Homo sapiens: one gene and its partners. The main gene of each other region encodes a partner of the protein of the gene in region 3 in a complex. Each region holds a gene or a part of one and is shown on either strand. Other genes may lie near its edges. A codon is read from its position in the direction of its gene.

What was found. Proteins that work in one complex are often made in the same cells at the same time.
Region 1: the proteins of NCBP2 (region 3) and NCBP1 are in contact, whole or in part, in a crystal structure (PDB 5OOB), measured with the Homo sapiens proteins. Residues at the interface, in NP_031388.2 of Homo sapiens: Gly4 (codon at 2,984), Leu5 (codon at 2,981), Leu6 (codon at 2,978), Lys7 (codon at 2,975), Leu9 (codon at 2,969), Arg10 (codon at 2,966), Ser11 (codon at 2,963), Asp12 (codon at 2,960), Ser13 (codon at 2,957), Tyr14 (codon at 2,954), Glu53, Glu54, Gln55, Tyr57, Glu58, Leu59, Lys62, Ser63, Asp65, Lys67, Ile69, Tyr89, Asn96, Arg99, Tyr100, Asn102, Gly103, Thr104, Arg105, Leu106; in NP_002477.1 of Homo sapiens: Glu32, Cys36, Leu71, Thr74, Val75, Arg77, Leu78, Leu79, Ser324 (codon at 6,755), His325 (codon at 6,758), Trp326 (codon at 6,761), Lys327 (codon at 6,764), Glu328 (codon at 6,767), Arg329 (codon at 6,770), Lys330 (codon at 6,773), Ile368, Val370, Met371, Thr374, Glu378, Asn415, His419, Ser422, Asn423, Gln425, Lys455, Arg458, Leu459, Ser460, Tyr461.
Region 2: the proteins of NCBP2 (region 3) and NELFE are in contact, whole or in part, in a crystal structure (PDB 5OOB), measured with the Homo sapiens proteins. Residues at the interface, in NP_031388.2 of Homo sapiens: Phe49, Tyr50, Thr51, Thr52, Glu53, Gln55, Lys68, Ile69, Ile70, Met71, Leu73, Lys77, Lys78, Thr79, Ala80, Asp107, Glu121, Gln124; in NP_002895.3 of Homo sapiens: Lys361, Arg362, Gln364, Ile365, Val366, Tyr367, Asp369, Tyr372.

Annotation. Positions count from the first base shown.
Region 1 is NC_000009.12:97,643,821-97,650,838, forward strand, and holds part of NCBP1 (nuclear cap-binding protein subunit 1), read left to right. Parts: intron 1-1,296; coding exon 1,297-1,404; intron 1,405-1,790; coding exon 1,791-1,912; intron 1,913-3,671; coding exon 3,672-3,741; intron 3,742-4,187; coding exon 4,188-4,403; intron 4,404-6,682; coding exon 6,683-6,780; intron 6,781-7,018. UniProt on the Homo sapiens protein: Component of the cap-binding complex (CBC), which binds cotranscriptionally to the 5'-cap of pre-mRNAs and is involved in various processes such as pre-mRNA splicing, translation regulation, nonsense-mediated mRNA decay, RNA-mediated gene silencing (RNAi) by microRNAs (miRNAs) and mRNA export.
Region 2 is NC_000006.12:31,955,954-31,963,524, forward strand, and holds the start of NELFE (negative elongation factor E), read right to left. Parts: upstream 3,019-7,571; 5' UTR 2,939-3,018; exon of another isoform or gene 2,627-2,938; intron 2,529-2,626; exon of another isoform or gene 2,502-2,528; 5' UTR 2,494-2,501; coding exon 2,419-2,493; exon of another isoform or gene 2,355-2,418; intron 1,058-2,354; coding exon 988-1,057; exon of another isoform or gene 886-987; coding exon 740-885; intron 1-739. Other genes in the region: SKIC2 (superkiller complex protein 2), read left to right, coding at 3,240-3,261, 3,344-3,447, 4,057-4,166, 4,267-4,384, 4,479-4,593, 4,713-4,787, 5,088-5,141, 5,243-5,433 and 6 more. UniProt on the Homo sapiens protein: Essential component of the NELF complex, a complex that negatively regulates the elongation of transcription by RNA polymerase II.
Region 3 is NC_000003.12:196,939,511-196,947,364, forward strand, and holds the start of NCBP2 (nuclear cap-binding protein subunit 2), read right to left. Parts: upstream 3,019-7,854; 5' UTR 2,994-3,018; coding exon 2,916-2,993; exon of another isoform or gene 2,449-2,915; coding exon of another isoform or gene 2,425-2,448; intron 1,633-2,424; exon of another isoform or gene 1,464-1,632; intron 618-1,463; exon of another isoform or gene 367-617; intron 1-366. Other genes in the region: protein NCBP2AS2, read left to right, coding at 3,207-3,506; PIGZ (GPI alpha-1,2-mannosyltransferase 4), read right to left, coding at 7,647-7,854. UniProt on the Homo sapiens protein: Component of the cap-binding complex (CBC), which binds co-transcriptionally to the 5' cap of pre-mRNAs and is involved in various processes such as pre-mRNA splicing, translation regulation, nonsense-mediated mRNA decay, RNA-mediated gene silencing (RNAi) by microRNAs (miRNAs) and mRNA export.

The sequences.
Region 1 (7,018 bases), on a different chromosome or scaffold from region 3:
TTTATGCCTTCCTCCAGATGTTCTTAATAGCCTCTTAACTGATCTTTTTGCATCTAGATTCTCTGCTTTTCACTTTGTGTTCTACAGTGGCACCAGACTGGTCTTTCTATAACTAGGCTCTGCACATGTTGGTTACTGGTTAAAAAAACCTTAGTTCCTTCCCATTGTCTACAGTGAGTGGTCTTAAAAGCCTGGTGCACAAGATGATTCCTTGGGTTTCAGGAAGTGAATATTAAGAACTCTTATTTATCTTAAGTGGAAATGAAATTAAACCTTACTAATAATACATAGATTAATGGTGATCCAGTGTATATCATAAATACATATGTATGTGTTGAAGATATGTGATCAAATTCTTTTTTACTGAGTACACAATCAAAAAAGTTTGGACACCCATCAGGCTATAGGATTAAAGTCCAGACTCTTTAGCCTGACCCTTTATGGTTTCCCCAGTCTGTTTCTCTATTCTTGTCTCCCATATGCTCCCCAGCAATATCAAAATAACTTGCAGATCCCTAAACACACCTTGTTTTTGAACCTCTATGCCTAGACTGCCCTCCTTGCTCACTACTTGAGGCTGTTGCTATCCTTTATGACCTAGCCTAATTGTTACCTCCTTTGTGATGCTTTCCCCAACTCCCTTTGTCATTGTTCCTAAAAAATGCTTAATTTGCCTTTTAGTGTGGGAGTCATTCCTTTGTATTGAGATTGTGCTTGTTCCACTAGAATGGGTCCCCTAACAGTGACTTTTAGTAGTGTTTAGCAATAGCACACTAAGCACACCCAATAAATATGTGTTCTGTAATTTCCATTTCTGTAATTCAGTGAAAATTACAGCCAAACAGAAAAGGAGATTATAGGTTGAAGTAGCTAGAATATTTTACAATCTGGATTCTTGATGTAGTATAGCATAGAAACGTATGAACTCACAGATTACTGTCCTTTATATAGTCTTTGTTACAACTTCTCAATTCTGCCATTGTAGCACAAAAGCAACCATAGACAATATGTAACTGAATGAGCGTGGCTATTCCACTAAGTTTACTTATGGGCACTGAAACTTGAATTTCATGTAATTTGTATATGTCATAAAATACTCTTGATTTTTTTTTCACGCATTTAAAAATGTAAAAACCATTTTTAGTTCCCAGCTATGCAAAAAACAGGTAGTAGGCTAGATTCAGCCCTTAGGCTATAGTTTTTTAGACCAATAGTTTAGCCTATACAAGATTGCTTATTTTGTAGTTATTATAAAGAACATTTAGGTTTAATAGCAGAAATTGTTTGCCCCAACAGGTCCGTTTTTTATCTGATCTTGTGAATTGTCATGTGATTGCCGCCCCATCAATGGTTGCTATGTTTGAAAATTTTGTAAGCGTAACTCAGGAAGAAGATGTACCTCAGGTAAGAGAACCCCTCATGCTGAATCTTGAGGGGTTCTTGAGGGGTTACTGAATCCTGGTACTTCCATATAGTACCAGGAATTTTTCGCTGATAACCCATTAGCAATAAAGAAAAAAATAACAGCAGACTATCACACTTTAAGTTCTTACTATCTAAAAATTAAGCTGACTGGCACACTGGTGGGTTCTCATAATATCTGTATGTTGATTTAAATGATGCTGTCTAGTAAGATTAGAACTAATATATCTAGAAATGCTCTGTATAAACCAGATGTCTTATTTAAGTCCTATTAAATAGCTTCCATAGGATTTCATTCAAGAATAAATAAAATATGAATGAATATAATTAAAGCATATTTTAAACTTAACTTTTTAAAAATCCTTTAGGTGCGACGAGATTGGTATGTGTATGCATTTCTGTCATCTTTGCCCTGGGTTGGAAAGGAGTTGTACGAAAAGAAAGATGCAGAGATGGACCGCATCTTTGCCAACACTGAAAGCTATCTTAAGTAAGGGCACAGCTCATAGTACTCTTTGTTGCTTAGGTAAAGGATATCTTATATCAGTGATACCATTTGAGTTTCTCAAAAATAAGCTGTAGAGTTCCTGAAGGTATTTTCTAGGTAATCCTGTTCTCCTGCTGTTTTAACTCACTGAGACCTCAAAGTAGTCAGATATGGTTTGCTTACTTTTGCCAGTGCAAAGGACAGTTGGCAATATAGCTTCTTTTAAGCTGCTTTTATATGTTTGTTTATAAAAGACATAAAACACCCTAGTGCAATAGTTCCTCAAATATTAGTGTGGATAAGAATTACCTGTGGTACTTAAAATACTCAGACCCCAACCCCCAGACCTGATAAATTATACAATTTGAGAGAGAGGTTTGGACATCTGTATTATTAACACATTTCACAAGTGGAGAACCACTGTCCTAGCACATACAGTATATTTAGTTCATGTAAATTAATCTTAAATCAAGCTCTTAAAACAGTGGTCCTTAACCCTCCATCCAGCCAGTACTTCTTAAGTAATATGACACATTTCAATTAAAATAGTCACATGTCTTCCCATTACTCATCTCTCCTAAGCCAATGTAAAAGCTTGGTTTATATTGTTAGATACAATAATAATAAATAGGTCTTTTTAGTAAATTTATGCTTAACTATCCAGCAACATGGTAATGGTTATGTGGCCCTTAGGTTTTTACAGATTGATTTTGTTGTTAAGTTTCATTTTCTCTTTTTTAAGTGCTTTTTTTGGATAACTGTTAATAGCTACTTAGTTGGTTATTAAGTAAAGTTAAAAGAAGCTTAAAAAATAAGAATCTTTTGGCCGGGCGCAGTGGCTCACGCCTGTAATCCCAGCACTTTAGGAGGCCAAGGCAGGTGGATCACCCGAGGTCAGGAGTTTGAGACCAGCCTGGCCAACATGGTGAAAACCCATCTCTACTAAAAAATACAAAAATTAGCCGAGCGTGGTGGTGGGTGCCTGTAATCCCAGCTACTCGGGAGGCTGAGGCAGGAGAATTGCTTGAACCCAGGAGACGGAGGTTGCAGTGAGCCGACATGGTGCCGCCACTGCACTCCAGCCTGGGCAACAGAGTGAGACTCCGTCTCAAAAAAAAAAAAAAAAAAAAAAAGAATCGTGTGTGTGTGTATACATATCCTTTCTCTTTTTTATTCAAATGATAGCCCAATATACACACTGTTCTTCACTTGGCTTTTTTTTTTTTTCTTACTATAACTTGGATTTGTTGCATAAAAATACTTAACTCTACTTCATTCTTTTTAACAGTTGTAGGGTATTTCACTTTTTAATGTACCATGATTTCCGTAGTCTCCTGTTGGTGGACGTTTAGGTTATTTTCAATCTTTTGCTCTTATAAACAATGTTTCAGTGAATATCTTTGTGTATATGTTTTTATGTACATGTGCAAATATATTTATGGGGGATATAAATTTTTAGAAATGGCATTGCCGAGTTGAGGGTTCTAAACAATTTTGATAGATTTAGTCAAATTACCTTCCAAAGAGATTATACTTTCCCAAAGAGATTATATCAGTTAACCTCTTTGTCAACAATGTTTGAGACTGAATCTTGACCTGCATCTTGATGATACACAGTACATTATCAAAACAGTTGATATCTGCCACTCCAGTAGGTAAAATGTTATTTCATTGCTTTAATTTGCATTTTAATAACTGTGAGGGTGACTGAGCATCTCTTGTTTTTAAAAGCCTAAATGTAGATTTTCATTTTTATCTTTAGAAGACGCCAAAAGACTCATGTACCCATGTTACAGGTATGGACTGCTGATAAACCACATCCACAAGAAGAGGTAAATGGATTTCAGTCCCTTGTGATACAAACACAGTCAGCTCTTGAATAGATTCTTATCTCTGTAAGATACTCAGACCATTCCATTTTACCCTTTGACTGTGTTTCTACATTTCATGATAGTTCCTTCTCATAGCTCAAGGTGTATGGTAGGTCTTTAATAGATGATAGAATGTAATTGAAATATTCCCTTGTTCTTTGGAATGCCAGCTATTACAGAGTTGACATATATTTATTTAAATGCTTAATTTGAAAAATGTCAAAACAGACAGTTCCAAACAGGTAGACTTTGTAAGTAAAATAAAAACAAAAACTTAGCACCTTTTTTTGTACCATCTTACAAGTTAGCTTACTTTTGTATCCTGTATTTTAAAGGGTAGTGATTTTTTCATTTTGTCTAGTCAAAATGTTAATTATATTAATGATTAAAAATTAATCTGTCTTTAGTATTTAGATTGCCTGTGGGCCCAGATTCAGAAATTGAAAAAGGATCGCTGGCAGGAACGGCACATCCTAAGACCTTATCTTGCCTTTGACAGCATCCTGTGTGAAGCACTGCAGCACAATCTGCCTCCTTTTACACCACCTCCTCACACTGAAGATTCAGTGTACCCAATGCCAAGGGTCATCTTCAGAATGTTTGATTACACAGATGATCCCGAGGTAAGTGACCGACTAAAAGTCCTAGATATTGACCTGTGTTGCATTGTGCTTGTGGGTTAATCCCGCTTGAATTATGCCTGTGGTATGTTTTAATTTTGAGTTGTTTTTATCTAAGAAGGTCAGTAGCAATGAAGTTAACTTTTTAATTCAGTGAATGATATCACCTCATTATGCAAGAAATTATATTTGGCATGTGTAAATAGATTACAGAGACGTGCACAGTTTGCAGGCTAAGAGTGTGGGTTTTGGGTTTTTAGAGCTACGTTGGTTTGTGTTTTAATCTTGGTTTAGCCAAATACTAGCTGTGTTAATTTGGGAAGGTTATTTACCTCCCTGTGCTTTCATTTCCTGAAGGTAATAATAATAGTATACATCTCATAATAGTAGTATATATCTCATGTTATGAGGATTAAATTATTCACATGTAAAATGCATAGAACAAGAACAGTGTCTGTCACATGATGAATGCTCAGTCATTCTGGCAATTTTTCTTTCTTATTTTTTTCTTTTCGAAATGGGGTCTTACTTTGTTGCCCAGGCTGCAGGTGAGATCTAAGCTCACTGCAACCTCTGCCTCCTGTGCTCAAGCGATCCTTCCACTTCAGCCTCCTGAGTAGCTGGGACCACAGGCATGTGTCACCTAGCCTGGCAAATTTTTTGTAGAGTTGAGATTTCGCCATGTTGCCCTGGTTGGTCTCAAACTCCTGGGCTCAAGCAATTCGTCCGCTTCGTTTTCCCAAAGTGTTGGGCTTACAGGCATGAGCCACTGCACCTGTCCATAATTATACTTAATAAGGTTATTTCTCAGTAAAAGTACCTAGTTTTAGGTATGGTCCCTCTCTAGGCAACACAGCCTGTCTTGTGATTATTCATATTGTATGATTATTTGAAAACAAATGTTGGAAGTATTTTTAATTAAAAAATTCCAAAGATTAGTCTAAGCTGACTTTATCATTTTTAATATACATGTTCTTTATTTCAAAGTCAAGTTTCCTGGCAGCCATTGTACTGTTATAATTGTATATTGTACAATTAAGAAAATTTATAATTTTCATTGTGGGTACTATCCTGTGTATTGTAAGATGCTCAGCGGTGTCCCTGATCTCTACCCTCTAAATGTCAATAGCACTCTCCCTGCCTCAGTTTTGACAACCAAAAATATCTCCAGAGAGTGCAATATGTCCCCTCAAGAGCAAAATTGCCCCCAGTTGAAAACTATTGCCATAAAAATTAATATTACCACCTAAGTCAAATTTGAGTTTCTTCTATTGTCTCTTTTCTGTTCTATGGTAAAGTGCTAATGACCAGTAGGAATTTAGTATATATGTAATCTATTTTGGAATAAAAATTTCTCAGATAATCAGTTACATATACAAAATTATCAGCTTGCTGCCGTCTTTGCTATATTCCATATGTAACCAAATACTTTAGTCAAAATTATGTAATGATCTACTTAGATATGTCTAACTGAAAATCTGGTTTACATTTAAGACTGCTAATGTTTGTGGTCGGGTATTTTTTTTTTTTTGTGCAGGGGAAACTAGAATGGGACCTCAAAATTTGTTTCTCCTGAATTTGTATTTAATTGGTATCACCTCTGTAAGGTGCATATCCATCCCTTGCTAGAAGAGTATAAATATATAAAATACATATTACTCCCAAAACGAACAGGATTTTGTTTCTGTTCTGGCCTTTTACAAGTTGTTTATTAAAAAACATTAGAAATTGTAAAAAAAAGATTAGAATCATCCAAAAGTCATTATTAAAGGTTTATTTTGTGTGTTTTGAACCTGTTTGCTATGAATATACTTAAGAATAAAATAATGCCATGTAGGGAATATGTTTTGAGCTTAGACAGTATATTATGGGCATTTTTCAATTCATGCATGACTTTTTATGGCTATGTGGTGTTTGAATAGAATTTTCTCTCTGCATAGTTATTAATGGAAATAATTCACTCTCGGTTTAAAAAATAAACTCTGTAAGACTTGTATTATCCAAAATTATTTAGTTTCATATAATAATTGGTGTGTAAAGTAGGCAGTGGTTGTATGGTTAGGTATGAGATGTGGTAGAAAAAACACTACAGCTGATACTCTGGGGTATAAGTGAACATGACAATGGAATTTCCTGAAATATAGAGCTTTAACACTTCAGAACTTTTATCCCCATCACCCAGTTTAGTGCTTGGAACATAATAGTCTCTCAAATATTTGTTGAATAAGTAAAAGAAATCTGTTTTCTAGGCCTGTAGTGTACACATTTGGTTTTCTTTCCAGGGTCCTGTCATGCCAGGGAGTCATTCAGTGGAAAGATTTGTAATAGAAGAGAATCTTCACTGCATCATTAAGTCCCACTGGAAGGAAAGGAAGACTTGGTAAGATTCTTTTCATGGTACTTTTAGAAGGGAGAGAAGCAGCAATTTTGATAATTCAGTAAGAGCAAAATATATGTTGAGAGTGTAAGAAAATTTTATCCTCCTGACTCCCTGTCTTGCTAAAATCAATTTCTAAAAACACTTGCTTTACTTTCTCAAGGCTCTTCACCCTTGTATAGTACTTTTCGAGGTGCTTTATAGTAATAAGCGTATGATGCCAGTGTGTTTGGTGTGGATA
Region 2 (7,571 bases), on a different chromosome or scaffold from region 3:
ACGGAGTCTCGCTGTCACCCAGGCTGGAGTGCAGTGGCACAATCTCGACTCACTGCAAGCTCCGCCTCCTGGGTTCAAGCAATTCTCCTGCCTCAGCCTCCCAAGTAGCTGGGACTACAGGCGCCCGCCACCACGCCCGGCTAATTTTTGTATTTTTAGTAGAGATGGGGTTTCACCTTGTTAGCCAGGATGGTCTCGATCTCCTGACCTCGTGATCCGCCTGCCTCGGCCTCCCAAAGTGCTGGGATTACAGGTGTGAGCCACCGCGCCCGGCCTCACACCCTGCTGATTTTTGTATTTTTAGTAGAGACGGGGTTTTACCATGTTGGCCAGGTTGGTCTTAAACTCCTAATCTCAAGTGATCTGCCCACCTCAGCCTCCCAAAGTGCTGGGATTACAGGCATGAGCCACCACGCCCAGCTGGTATTTTTTATAAGTGACTCGATATATTATGTATTCAGTTTATTTGAACCTCTCTTGAACCTGATAACATTTTCAGCCCTTTCCATCCCTTAGGGCAACATATTCCAAGAGCTCCAATCCAAGGTGGATTAGAACCACAGAATTTGTAAAATGGAGAATTCAGGAGTCGTCTAGTTTTTTCATTTTATACATGAGAGGTGAAACTCAGAATGGTACAGCAATTTGCCAGTGCTTGAGTATGCATATTTTTCCCCAAACCCATCTACATTCCAACTTGGAGGGATGCCCTTTAAACAATCTTTCTGCTTGTGCTCACCTTTAACTTCCCCTCAAGGGTTCGAGAACGCTTGAAGCCTGAGTTCTTGGTCTCAGCCTTGATGGCACTGATGGCTCCTGACTTCACCAGCTGCTTTGCCTGCTCTGTTGCTGTGGCTGTGTCCATGACAGGCTGCTCTGATAGTGCTGGAGAGACAAGGGGAAGAGGCATTATGTTGGCCAAGCCATGATGAAGGTCAGCTCCATGCTGCCCACTTCCAGTCCATCCCCATTTCCCCTGTCACTCACAGCGTTTGACACCACCTTGGCTGGTTGTGCTGCTGCTACTTTGCTTCTTCAGAGCCAGCAATGCCTTTTTCTGGGAACAAGGGTGAGAAGAGAGAGGTAAGTGAGGGCCAGCCCCTAGCCGGTTCCTCTCCTAAGGCCCCTGGGCACATCACTCCAGGGACCGTCTTTCTTGATGCCCTCAGAGTGGTACACTGATGTGCTCTGCCTCTTGCCTCTGGTCCCCTAGATCATGTATGATGCTGGAAATTCCTAATCTAACCAAACCACGGAACCCAGAGGTTTTCCAGAGTGTTACATTTTTGAAGTTGAAGACAAATAACTCAATCATGGACTAGAATCCTAGGATATAAGCTGCAAGTAAGTATAAGTTTATGTGCCTTTCCTGGAAGCTTCATCCATCTATTTCCTGCATATTGAATGAGGCCCAGCCATGACTTCGTAACAGGGATATCCAGGAGGCTAATGCATTGTTCCTACCCTCAAGAAGCTTACAGTCTGAGAAATAAAATACATTGAGTTAGCAATACAATTATAAGAGGTGCAGATTATTCATAGCTGAAAGCTAGTAAGATTTTCTGATGTTTAATGGCTATTAAACTAGGCCCTCTCCCGTATCTCTGCACAACACAGAGAGGAGAAGGGTATTTTAGAAAAAGAAAACAGGGTGGCAAAGATGCAGAGATAAGAAGGCTTTGGGAATGCATCTTTTGGAAGTAGTGAATAGTTCTACTTTACTAGACAAGGCTGCCAAACTAAGGTTTTGAGGCTTTTTTATAGACAATGTGAAGCCATTTATGGTTTTTGAGAAACAGAGGGAGCAGAATTTTGTGTTTTCAATGGATCATTTGAACAGGAGTGAAGAAGTCTGTTCAAAAAAAAAGACTGAGAAATTTGTTGAGAGACCATTACAATGGCCCACATGAATGTCAATAAAGCCCTGCTCGGGGGAATGCACAGTGAAGAATAAACAGGAAAAATTACTTCAAAAGAAGAAACAATAAGACTTGGCAAAGGTTTGACTATGCAAATAGTGGGGAAGTCAGAGTTTTGAGTCCAAACATGTGGCAGAATTGGTGTAGTCAATCTTATTTGGAAGATCAAGAATAGAAAGATGATAGCTTCAACACTGAGTATCTGAAGTTTTTCAGTATAACACTGGATAGAACTGGAAAAAACAAACTTGGGGATCATCAGCTCTTAAGCGGTACTAAAAGCCATGGGAAAGGAAGACAATCCATGGCAAATTGCATAGAAAAGACAGAAGGTCCACACCAAGGCTTGGGAAAGCCCACCTCTCGAAGCTACACTGTGAGGTGATATGTCTCTAGGTATGGGCCAGAAAAACTTCCCCATTCGCTCACACTCACCCCATATCTTCTCAGAGTGCAGAGTCTGTGAAAGGTTAGGCCATGTCCACACACAGTCCCTCACCTTTTTCTTGAGCTTGTTGAATTTCTTCTGCAGAGCCTCCTCTTCCTCGCTCAGTCCGGGGGGTATCACCAACATGGTGGCTCCTAGTTCAGGGGCAGGGCCCAAGACATCTTTCTCCACTGTTACCACCCGGGGTTCACACGCCGTCCACACTGTACCCAACCCCACCCCTTCAGGTCTGCCTACTCTTGTCTTTGGCTTTCCCTACCCCTTGCTTAAACCAGGCTGCTGTCCAAGCTCCCGCTGGTCGGGATCATCCAGCATTCCCTCCTGTCTCCAGGGATCACAGACACCAGCACCTTTAGGTACCATGTGGTTCAAGGAGGGACAAATATCCACTCCGTCGGAAAGACGATGGCACCCGACCCCCCTACCCTCGCTAGGGTAAGGACAACCGCGGGGTTTGAACGGCAGAGAAGGCGGTGGAGCCAGCGTAGCGCCCGCAGAGCAACGCAAAGAGGAAGAACAGAGAAACGGCTATGAGAAAAAGGGCCGAAGAGTGAGAAGCAGAGGGCCTTACCCGAGGGGGCGGCAACCGGGGGCCCCACGGTCTCCGGCCGCGCCCGCGCTGGCCGCTGATAGCGGGCTCACAACGATGACGTAGCGAGGAGCGGAAAACGCGGTAACCAAGGCGGCCCCAGGCGCGCACTTCCGCCCGGCCTTCCACCGGTCCAGGTCTGCCCCTCCGCAGCGATAGTTCACGCTCTCGGCGGGGCTGTACCGGAAGTTGCCTCTACTTCCGCCCGTTCCGGGGCGGGGCTTACTTCGCAGCGACTACTTGCCGCACTTCCGGGCTGCCAGGCAGCTGCTGTGGCTCCAGGATGATGGAGACAGAGCGACTTGGTGAGGGGGAGGGGAGGGAAATGGAACGGAGTAGCCGATATGGAATGAACTTTGACCCCTGACTTTTGACCTTTCCCCGTAGTGCTACCCCCTCCAGATCCCCTGGACCTACCCCTTCGGGCCGTGGAGCTCGGATGCACGGGGCACTGGGAGCTGCTGAACTTGCCTGGAGCTCCAGAGAGTAGCGTGAGTGACTTTTGACCCTAACCTTTGACCCGCATTGAGTCCAAACCTCCTTCACCCTCCTCACAGTAGGATCTAGCTTAACCTTGTTCATCTGTGCCTGTACTCCTGTCCATCCCAGCCTGAAGGGGTGCTGGACAGATTACAGCCCAGTGTACCTGCAGTACATGTGAGGACAGAGCAGAAAGGGCTGGGGATATTTTTGCTTTGAGAGCTGCTCTTTCAAATGTGGCATTTCTCCGTGGAGCTCCCTTCTGTATCCAAGCACCAGGGCACTTGGTGACTGAGATGATAGGCTTTGAGCCTCCAACCTTTCATCCTTAGGTCTGGGACCCCTTTTTCTAAAATCAGTGAGTCTCCAATTTCAGTGTGCTTCATGATTAGCCAGGGAGCTTTTTAAAAATGCACATTCCTAGGTCCAGCCTCCATGTTTCTGAAATCCAAAATCTGCCCCAGGTAATTCAGTAGCAGGTAGTTTTTGGCCAAGCCTGATTGTCCTAGTCTGTTTGACACATCTGCCATTTCTGATCTGAACACAAGTCCCATCATCTCTTTTGTCTGCATTTTATCCTCTTTCCTTACCTAATGCCTCTCATCTTGCCCTTGTTTCAGCTTCCCCATGGCCTCCCTCCTTGTGCCCCAGATCTGCAGCAAGAAGCAGAACAGTTGTTTCTGTCATCCCCAGCCTGGCTGCCTCTGCATGGTGTGGAGCACTCAGCCCGGTGAGGAGTCTGGAGGGGCTTAGACTAGGGTGATGGGTTCCTGAAGGAAGCTGGGACAGAGGAAGAAAGAAGACCCAAAAGTTACTATTTTTCTCTCCAGAAAATGGCAGAGGAAGACGGATCCCTGGTCTCTTTTGGCTGTCCTGGGAGCCCCAGTCCCATCCGACCTACAGGCCCAAAGACACCCAACCACAGGCCAGATACTGGGTTACAAAGAGGTAGGAGGTCAGGGGTCATGAGAAACAGTTGGGGAGAAGGGGAGGTGGTCAGAGACAAGCTCAGCCTCATTGGGGCTCTGATCTCTTGCCTTAGGTCTTGCTGGAGAACACAAATCTCTCGGCTACAACCTCCTTGTCTCTTCGCCGGCCTCCAGGGCCAGCCTCCCAGTCCTTATGGGGAAATCCAACTCAGTATCCCTTCTGGCCAGGTGACTCTTGTGGAGATGGGATGGTAGAAGAGGGTGTCTTTAATCTCCAGGGAAGGGTTCCCCACCTATCTCGTATTACCCTCATCCCATGAATCCCTGTCTGTCCTGTCTCTTCCCAGGGGGGATGGATGAACCCACCATAACAGATCTGAACACACGGGAGGAGGCTGAGGAGGAGATAGACTTTGAGAAAGGTAAGGTGGGGCTCTGAGTCTGAGCCTTGAGGAGGAAGAGCCCAGGCTATCACTGGGCTACTGCTAGCCCTCCCATGTTTTTGAGAAAATTAGAAAAAGATATTCTGTCCATAACAACCTTTACTGTCATCTGCTGGGAAATTTCTACAACAACCTTTACTGTCATCTGTTGGGAAAGTGTCATAGCAAACATCCCTATCTACAGCATCTGTCCTGTAAATGGTATCTTTTAGGTTTATATAATGTACACAATTTGTTCACCAGTGTGCAGTGACCTGATTTCATGTCCCTATCCTACAGATCTTCTTACTATTCCACCTGGTTTCAAGAAAGGCATGGACTTTGCACCAAAAGGTTAGTTTTAGTTTTTGAGTGGGGTGTAGGAGAAGTCATGTCCTTCTCCTAAGGAACAGAGATGGACATGACAAGGTTGACCTTGTTGGCTTGCTCCTCAGATTGTCCAACTCCAGCTCCTGGACTACTAAGCCTTAGCTGTATGTTGGAGCCTCTGGATTTGGGTGGGGGTGACGAGGATGAGAATGAGGCAGTGGGACAGCCAGGAGGTCCCAGAGGGGACACTGTTTCAGCCTCTCCCTGCAGTGCTCCCCTGGCCCGAGCAAGCAGCTTGGAAGACCTAGTGTTGAAGGTTGGTGGTTCTGTGTAGTGGAGGCAAGAAAGAGCCTTGCCACCAGGATGTGGGCTGGCTAGGATGGGTCTGAGGGGAAGAAAGGGACATCTTTTGGGAGGAGTGCTAATTGAGAGCCCTCTGGTTGTATCTTTATCACTGCTACCCCTGACTCTTCCAGGAAGCGTCCACAGCTGTATCCACCCCAGAGGCCCCAGAGCCTCCATCTCAGGAGCAGTGGGCCATCCCTGTGGACGCCACCTCCCCTGTTGGTGATTTCTATCGCCTCATTCCCCAGCCAGCCTTCCAGGTACTTTGGCCCCATCTTCACACGCTCCTCTACCTCTTTCTGGGTCACACTCCCAGCCGACCCCTTGTCTCCTCTATTGGCCAGAGGTCAGATCCATCCCAGGCCAGTCTTGGTACTCAGTCCCAGCCTCGGCTGGCTCCGGCCTTCATCCGCCCGCCCTGCGTGCTCCATGAGCAGGAGGCAGCAAGGCCCCGCTCCTTTCTTCAGCTCCTGTCTATTTCTCTCTCCCATAGTGGGCATTTGAGCCAGATGTGTTTCAGAAACAGGCCATCCTGCACTTGGAACGGCATGACTCTGTCTTTGTCGCAGCTCACACATCTGCAGGAAAAACAGTTGTGGCTGAATATGCCATTGCCCTGGCCCAGAAACACATGACACGGTATGAGTTCCTTTGCCAACCTCCCCCTTCACCAGCCAGCCCCATTTTCTCCTGCATCCTTTGAAAATCTCATCTCTTCCCCCACCTCTCTAGCTCATCCTTTAAGTGAGAGGTTCAGGGCTAAGACTGAGACAAGAGCCCAGAGAGAAATGAAAAGACATGGTGGGGAGAAAGTTTAGAAGAATGACCTGGGTTAGTTTAGGAAGGGGTTGGGGACAGAATTTTTCTGGGGTTATATCATGCAGGAGAATGTAAGGGCAGTTTGGGTGAAGAAGAGGAGCACCTGAGCTTCTGGGGCATGCTTCCACGAGGGCTCCATGTGGGAGAGGAAGTGCGGGCCATGAGTCTGCGGAGGGACTGGCTAACTTCATGCTCTCTTCCCAGCACCATCTACACTTCGCCCATCAAGGCCCTGAGCAACCAGAAGTTCCGGGACTTCCGAAACACATTCGGGGATGTGGGGCTGCTCACCGGGGATGTACAGCTGCATCCGGAGGCCTCCTGCCTCATCATGACCACAGAGATCCTTCGGTGAGAGATGGACACTCAATACAGGGGAGTTTTGGCTGGGAAGATGTGGCCGTTGTGGAGAGTGTGCTGTCTGAGGAGGGGGTGGAGACGAGCCACTGGGGAGTCAATCCTTGGCCTCTTCTCCCCAGCTCCATGCTGTACAGTGGCTCAGATGTTATTCGGGACCTGGAGTGGGTCATCTTTGATGAGGTTCACTATATCAACGATGTCGAGGTAAGGGCCATGGGCTCCCCAGAACCCGGCAGTCCTCTCCTTTGGGACCAGTTGAGCGTCTCCCTTATTCCACACACTCAGGGCCCCTTACTGCTTTCTTTACCCCCATATGGAATCCTGTGCCTCTTTATGGGCAGAAGGGCGGCCCCTGCCCTCATGTGACCTCCCTTCCCTCTCTGTGCCCAGCGTGGGGTCGTGTGGGAGGAGGTGCTTATCATGCTACCTGACCACGTTTCTATCATCCTTCTGAGTGCCACCGTCCCCAACGCCCTTGAGTTTGCTGACTGGATTGGGTGAGACGTGTGTCCCGGGTTGCCTGGGTGAAGGGGGCTACAGTACTCCTTGATTCGGGTGGGGGACTAAGTCTACCACAGCAAGGAGAGCGGTCAGGCCTTAGGGGTGATGCTGGGGAACATGTCCCACCTGGTGGCTGTGGGATCCCCTTTGGGTCCAGATTACTTTGCATGTTGAAATGGGATGAGATGTTGGGGGATAGCCTTCCATTCTGGGTCTCAGAAAAGACTGGGTAAAGTTGGAGGGGTAGGGAAGGGGGTGGGGATGTGGGTTCCTTCCCACGTTCCCACCCCTGACCTGCTTCCCTCTCCTTTCTTCAGGCGGCTGAAGCGTCGTCAGATCTATGTGATTAGCACTGTAACCCGCCCCGTGCCCCTGGAGCACTATCTTTTCACAGGGAACAGCTCCAAGACCCAGGGGGAGCTCTTTTTG
Region 3 (7,854 bases):
TTCATTAATTCTGGTTTGGAAATCAACTTCTCTCATCCCAGCCTACCAGAAATCCCTTGCCCAAAAAGGGGGATGTCGACCTTCTGTGAAGCACTTATGCGAAGTCCAGACTCTTAGTAGAGACAGGGCTCAAAAGTTATACCACATACAACAAAGTCACTTCTACGCCCGACTGCCACGCAAGCGGCTTCCCTTTTCCCTGCACACACCATATCCTCAGCAGTGCATCCTTTAAACCCAAGTGTAGACTCTGGACCTTGACCCAATATATGACAAAGGGCCCTTTTATCCTTCGTAGTGAAAAATAAGTGGGTTTTCAGAGAGAGAGAGAGTTCCTCTTTAATAACCCCCTAGAGACTGTTGAAAGCCACAACCTTGATGCTTTACGTGCTCATAGATCTTTCTCTGAGTTTAGGGGAAAATGTAGTGATCACTAAAAACAAAACAGAGCTCACTTTCTTAATGGGCTTCCAAATTGGGATGACAGGATGAAGCCAGAGACTTAAGCATATAACTGGGCTTCATCCAACACACCTGACAGACAAAGCCCTGGGTCCAAAATGGCTCATCGGGGTCAGGCGCGGTGGCTCATGCCTGTAATCCCAGCACTTTGGGAGGCTGAGGCGAGTGGATCGCCTGAGGTCAAGAGTTTGAGACCAGCCTGGCTAACATAGTGAATGAAACCCTGTCTCTACTAAAAATACAAAAATTAGCTGGGCATGGTAGCAGCGGGCGCCTGTAATCCCAGCTACTCGGGAGGCTGAAGCAGGAGAATCGCTTGAACCTGGGAGGTGGAGGTTGCAGGGAGCTGAGATTGCACCACTGCACTTGAGCCTGGACAACAAGAGTGAAACTCTATCTCAAAAAAAAAAAGTCCACAGGACAATAGTCATTGTATGTTAAAAAGAGGTTTTCGGAACTTTGGAGTGAGACATTAGAGAAAGTAAATTCCTTTCATTTTACTGCTGTTACTGATTTGTGAACATGGAAAGGAGGCATCTTCTTTTTCTACTTTTCTCACACATGTAAGTAAGATCCAAATAAATAGCCTACAGTTTAAGATAACTGTGGTGTAAGTGCTTAAAGTATATTAATATGGATTCCATTCACAGAATGCTAGAAATTCCACATGACAGTATGGCATTAGCATCTAAAAAAAGCTACAGGTTTAGACTGAGGAGATGAATAATAGACAAAGTCAGAAGGTTCCAGTTTTCATCTCACAGGATGCTTTAAGTTCAAAATGGTCAGGATGTGGAACTGTCTAAAGTAGTAACTAAAAGTGGTAGAAGTGCAAATCATGCCTGGCACTTAGGCATCCCAGCACTTTGGGAAGCCCCAGGCAGGTGGATCGCTTGAGTCCCAGAGTTCGAGACTGGCCTGAGCAACACAGGGAGACCCTGTCTCTACAAAAAATTAGCTGGATGTGGTGGCGCGAGCCTGTGGTCCCAGCTTCTCAGGAGGCTGAGGTGGGTAGGATCACTTAGGCTCAGGAGGTTGAGGCTGCGTGAGCCGTGATTGCGCCACTGCACTTCAGCCTAGGCAATAAAGCGAGACTCTGTCTCAAAAAATAAAATACATTAACTGAATAAATTTTTTTTTTTTGAGAAGGAATATCGCTCTGTTGCCCAGGCTGGAGTGCAGTGGCGCGATCTCACAGCAACCTCCACCTCCCCGGTTCAAGCGATTCTCCTGCCTCAGCCTCCCGAATAGCTGGGATTACAAGCGCCTGCCACCACGCCCGCCTAATTTTTGTATTTTTAGTAAGACGGGGTTTCACCATCTTGGCCAGGCTAGTCTTGAACTCCTAACCTCGTGATCCACCCGCCTCAGCCTCCCAAAGTGCTGGGATTACAGGCGTGAGCCACCGTTCCCAGCCTTGACTAAATAAATCTAAGAGCTTCCCTAATTTAGCGTCAAACAAAATTTCCCTTTCCCTACTCTAGTAACACATTTCACACATTCTCCACACTTACCCTCTGCTATATGCGCCCCTTCCTTTCCCAGTCACAAGGGGATTTTTCCCTTTTCTGAATCCTCACTACAGGGGATTATGAGCTCGCAGAGCGCAGAAACTGTCTTCCCTCTCCCTCTAGGGTTTAGCACAAGGATTTGGCGACAGCACTCGATAAACGTTTACTAAATAATTGGGTTAATGAGTCCCGCCCCGCCAACCCCCAACCGTATTCCATCCCTACCTCCGCTGATACTGAAAAGTCTACTTTGAATATCTGCTGCCTCCCCTTTTTCCACAAAATATACTGTGATATAGTCCGGACTAAAAATTTCCCTCTTCTGAAATCCAGCAATTCTCCGATCTTTACATCCGAACACCCTCAAAGTGCCGAGCTTGGCGGGTCCACCTCCCCACTCCGAAGCTTCCCCGAGGGCGGAGTGAGGACTCCACTTGTGTCTCCCACGCACCGCGTACAGCTTCCGTAACACCATCCTCCCAGAGAAGGGGCCCGAATCGCCGAAGGGCACTGCTTCGCCGATTTAAAAAACAAAGCAAAAAGCCCCGCATCTGCATCAGGAAGGCGCCTCTGCCTACTCTGGGAGAGAGAAGGGCACCCCTCCCCCTTGCTACGTAGTCGTCTGCGGAGGCACAACCGTGGAAACGGGAGCCGCCACCACCACCACCGCTCAAACCTCTCGGCACTGGCTGGGGTACAGGGAGCGGCTGCGAGCGAATGGGATAAGCGAGCCTCCAGTTCCCCGTCTTCCAGAGCAAGTGGCTTCAGTGATATCCAAGCGCCCTTCCAGCACCCATTCCCTGCCTCGCCAGCAGGCACCGGGGCCCCACTTGGCGTTTGCGGATTTCAGCTGAATGGGAGGCGACACAATGAGACAAGAGCAAACCGTTTCTCAGCGTTCTTGCCCAGGGCCTTCCCGTCTCGCGGCCCGGCCTCCCTCACCCGGAAGTGCTGGTCCCGGTACTGGCTCAGCTCCACGTAGGAGTCGCTGCGCAGCGCCTTCAGGAGGCCACCCGACATAGTGCAGAGAAGCGGACCACAATGCGGCGACTCCCGGCACGAGGCTGCGTCCGCGATGGCGGAAGCGGAAACGCGCGGAGGCGAGCATCTCATTGGACCCAATCCGAGGGCGGCGTGTCGTCATCAAGCTGCGCGGGGGCATAGACGTCCGGGTCGGGCGCCGCGGGGCGGAAGACGAGGGCGGCGAGGTCGGGTTCCGGGCGCTTGGAGAAGATGGTGCTGCGGCGGCTGCTGGCCGCCCTGCTGCACAGCCCGCAGCTGGTGGAACGTCTGTCAGAGTCGCGGCCTATCCGACGTGCGGCGCAGCTCACGGCCTTCGCACTGCTGCAGGCCCAGCTGCGGGGCCAGGACGCGGCCCGCCGCCTGCAGGACCTCGCGGCTGGGCCCGTGGGCTCCCTGTGCCGCCGCGCTGAGCGATTTAGAGACGCCTTCACCCAGGAGCTACGCCGCGGCCTCCGAGGCCGCTCGGGGCCACCACCAGGTAGCCAGAGGGGCCCTGGCGCAAACATTTAATCCTGGGCTGTGCGGGGCCGAGGCCGCTTGCTTTTCCTTCCGGGCTCTACAGTGGCATCAATGTGGAGGGGTCATTCCGGGCACTGCGCGCGGCTTCGAATCCCGACTGGGATTGTTGGCCTGCAGACATCCCACGCATAAGAGCCTAGGCCAGACCGCCCGCTCCGTTGAAGTCTTGTGATTGGACAAGACACAGTGTGGAGACAGCCCTAAGCCTAACAGAGATGAAGGTAGGCTGGGTCCAGACACGGCACCTACGGAGAGCCACGGACCGAAGCCAGAGAGCCTTTCCTCTGCAAGTGGGACTGAAACTCTTGACAGATGCTGCTCAATCTGACTGGTATAGCAGGACAGTTAATTCCAGGGACGATATGGATGAAAAGACAACCCTACAGCTGCCAAATTCCTTTGATTAAATGTGTGAGCTGGTTGATAGGCATGAGTGTGATACTTCTCAGGCAAGATGTGTTAAGAATACCGGGGACTGTAGGCCTATGGTAATAATAAACACGTATTTTATGAAATGAGTCTTCTGTGCTGGGACTTGCTCATTGCACTCTATGTGTTATCTCACTCCTTACAACGACATTCACATGAGGAAGCAGATTACTTTTTGGATTTTTTTGTAGAGATGGGGTGGTCTCGAACTCTTGGGCGCAAGTGATCCTCCCGCCTCAGCCTCCCAAAGTGCTGGGATTATAGGCAAGAGCCACTGCGATGGAAACAGAGGCTGCTGCTTAAGTTGCCCAAAGTCTTGCAGAGTGGGATGTGAGCAGAGGCATTTGACTCCAGGGCCTAAGTCCTTAACACAGCTCTGCAGCATTTACCCTGATACTCAACCCCTTCCTTCCCCAACCCCCCACCATCAGGCATTAAGACTACTGCCTAGGGGCAGGGCCTGGTGGCAGTTGTGTCTTATCCCAGCCACTGCAGAGGCAGGAGGATCGCATGAGCCTGAGATGAGACCAGCCTGGGTAGCATAGCGAGAACCTTTCTCAAAAAAAAAAAAAAAAAAAAAAAAGACTACTGCCTGCCATGGAACAAGTTACCTGGACTCCTATCCTGTGGGGAAAAGAGAGATCAGATTGTTACTGTGTCTGTGTAGAAAGAAGTAGACATAGGAGACTCCATTTTGTTCTGTACTGAGAAAAATTCTTCTGCCTTGAGATGCTGTTAATCTGTAACCCCACCCCCAACCCCCTGCTCTCTGAAACATGTGCTGTGTCCACTCAGGGTTAAATGGATTAAGGGCGGTGCAAGATGTGCTTTGTTAAACAGATGCTTGAAGGCAGCATGCTCGTTAAGAGTCATCACCACTCCCTAATCTCAAGTACCGAGGGACACAAACACTGCGGAAGCCCACAGGGACCTCTGCCTAGGAAAGCCAGGTATTGTCCAAGGTTTCTCCCCATGTGATAGTCTGAAATATGGCCTCGTGGGAAGGGAAAGACCTGACCGTCCCTCACAGCGTGACACCCGTAAAGGGTCTGTGCTGAGAAGGATTAGTGAAAGAAGAAGGAACGCCTCTTTGCCGTTGAAACAAGAGGAAGGCATCTGTCTCCTGCCCGTCCCTGGGCAATGGTGTAAAACCCGATTGTATGTTCCATCTACTGAGTTAGGGGAAAACCGCCTTAGGGCTGGAGGTGGGACATGGGGGCAGCAATACTGCTCTGTAAGGCATTGAGATGTTTATGTGTATGCATATCTAAAGCACAGCACTTAGTTCTTTACCTTGTCTATGACACAGAGACCTTTGTTCACGTGTTTATCTGCTGACCTTCTCTCCACTATTATCTTATGACCCTGACACATCCCCCTCTCCGAGAAACACCCAAGAATGATGAATAAATACTAAGGGAACTCAGAGGCCGGCGGGATCCTCGTCTGCTGAATGCCGGCCCCCTGGGCTCCCTTTTTTCTTTCTCTATACTTTGTGTCTCTTTCTTTTCCAAGTCTCTCCTTCCACCTAACGAGAAACACCCACAGGTGTGGAGGGGCAACCCACCCCTTCACTACCCCTCATTTTAGAGGGTCAGGGATACAGACAGACTACGATCCAGCCAGTTAGCAGACCTGCGATTAGGAAATCCATTGTATATAGAAATGTCCTGTCATTTGAAGCTCCTAGCTAAATTTCTGATTTTTTTTTTGAGACAGGACCTAACTCTTGCCCAGGCTGGAGTGCAGTGGCACAATACTAGCTGTCACTGCAACCTCGACCCGTTGGGCCAAGCGATCTTCCTCCCTGGGACTCCCAAGTAGCTGGGATTACGGGCCCATGACACTATGCCCAGCTAATTAAAAACTTTTTTTCTGTTTTTTTTGTTTTTTTGAGACGGAGCCTTACTCTGTCACCAGGCTGGAGTGCAGTGGTGCGATCTCGGCTCACTGCAACCTCCACCTCCCGGGTTCAAGTGATTCCCCTGCCTCATCCTCCTGAGCAGCTGGGACTACAGGTGCGTGCCACCATGCCTGGCTAATTTTTTGTATTTTAGTAGAAACGGAGTTTCACCACGTTGGCCAGGATGGTCTCGATCTCCTGACCTTGTGATCTGCCCACCTCGGCCTCCCAAAGTGCTGGGGTTACAGGTGTGAGCCACCGCGCCCAGCCACAATTTTGTTTTGTTTTGTTTTTGGTTGAAATGGCATTGCACTTTGTTGCCCAGGCTGGTCTTGAACTCCTGGCCTCAAGCAGTTCTCCTGCTTCCGCCTCCCAAAGTGCTGGGATTACTGGTGTGAGCCACCACACCCAGCTCTGATCATTTCTAGTTAGGCAGCACAGTTAATCATGCAATCTAGAAAGCTTGAAGCCATCGGAAAAATTGAGGCTGGTAACCAGACACTAGCTGAGTGTTGTGTGTTCTCTGCCCTCTGGGGCAGGATGGGAGGGCTTGAGACCCACAGTTCTAAGGAGGAAGAACACCTGGCTCCCTAATCTGGGAAAATGACCCCCTTTTTTTTTTTTTCCCCCAAGACGGAGTCTTGCTCTGTCTCCCAGGCTGGAATGCAGTGGCTCTCGGTTCACTGCAACCTCTGCCTCCTGGGTTCAAGCAATTCTCCTGCCTCAGCCTCCTGAGTAGCTGGGATTACAGGTGCGTGCCACCACGCCTGGCTAATTTTTATATTTTTAGTAGAGATGGGGTTTCACCATGTTGGCCAGGCTGGTTTTGAACTCCTGACCTCGAGATCTGCCTACCTTGGCCTCTCAGTACTGAGATTACAGGTGTGAGCCACCATGCCCAGCCAGGAGAATGACTCTTAAGGACAAGGTGCAGAAATGGCTGGAGAGTTTCCCACCACCTCTCAGGAACAGGAGTAAAAGAAAGTAGGGAGAAAATCTCCAGTGCTATTATATATTTCAAACATTACTTGTTTGCATAATAACCAAACACTGAGACAGCAGGCATCAGAGTGCCATGAAGTACAACACAACTCCCACTTCCATGCTTGAAGAGCTTTGTGAGAGCTGTGCCTGTTGAGGCAGGGGACGTGTACTGTGGACTCCAGGAATGACACAATGTTAGCCGGCAGACACCTCAAAGTTCCTCTGATCCCAACAGACTGGGAAGTGGGGTGGGTGAGTGGAAGGAGCTTTCTCAAGATCACACAGCGAGGAGGTGACAGACCAAGGGGCCAGAAGTTGGGTCCCCTGGATCTGGGCCACCTGTTCTCTATACTTCGTCTCACTGACTTGCACATATTTCGATAGGCAGATGGGTCTTAGGAAGCCAGAGGGTTGTCATGACAGCAAGGGTAAGGCATCATGGGAGGTTTGGGAGAGGTCATTGAGGAATGTCACTAGCAGTTCATTGTCTTTTTTCACAACCAGGTACTATCACATATTTCAAACATCACAGTGGCTGGAAGCAACAGGGCAGGAACAGACAGGTGTCGTCACTTAACCTGGTCTTTGGGGACCTTGACATCAAGACCGACAGGTCAAATCTTTGGTCTCAGGGAGAAGAGTGCCAGCTCACCCAGAAGGCAGAACAGCTAACAGCCATGCCCAGGAGAGGCAGCAGTGGGAGTCATGAAGGAGGACGGGGTCCTGTCCCAGCGTCCCAGCCCAGCTACCCAAGTAGAAGGTGGGGCGGCATCTTCTATGGCTGAGTCTTGGGCAGTGGGTGCTCTGTCATATTGTCAGGTTTCTTCCCCCAGCTCCACAATGTGAAGACTGAGGTGGTCCCTCCAAGCCCCACTCAGCAAGGAGGACAGGGCTGGTGGATCCTCCAGGGTCAGATGGGGAAATAAAAGTGTTTCATTCTTGAAGGGGAAGCTGCACTTCTCCACGGCACGCCTGGTGGTGCCAGGGGTTACCACAAAGAGGCGGCAGAGCCATGGCCCACCA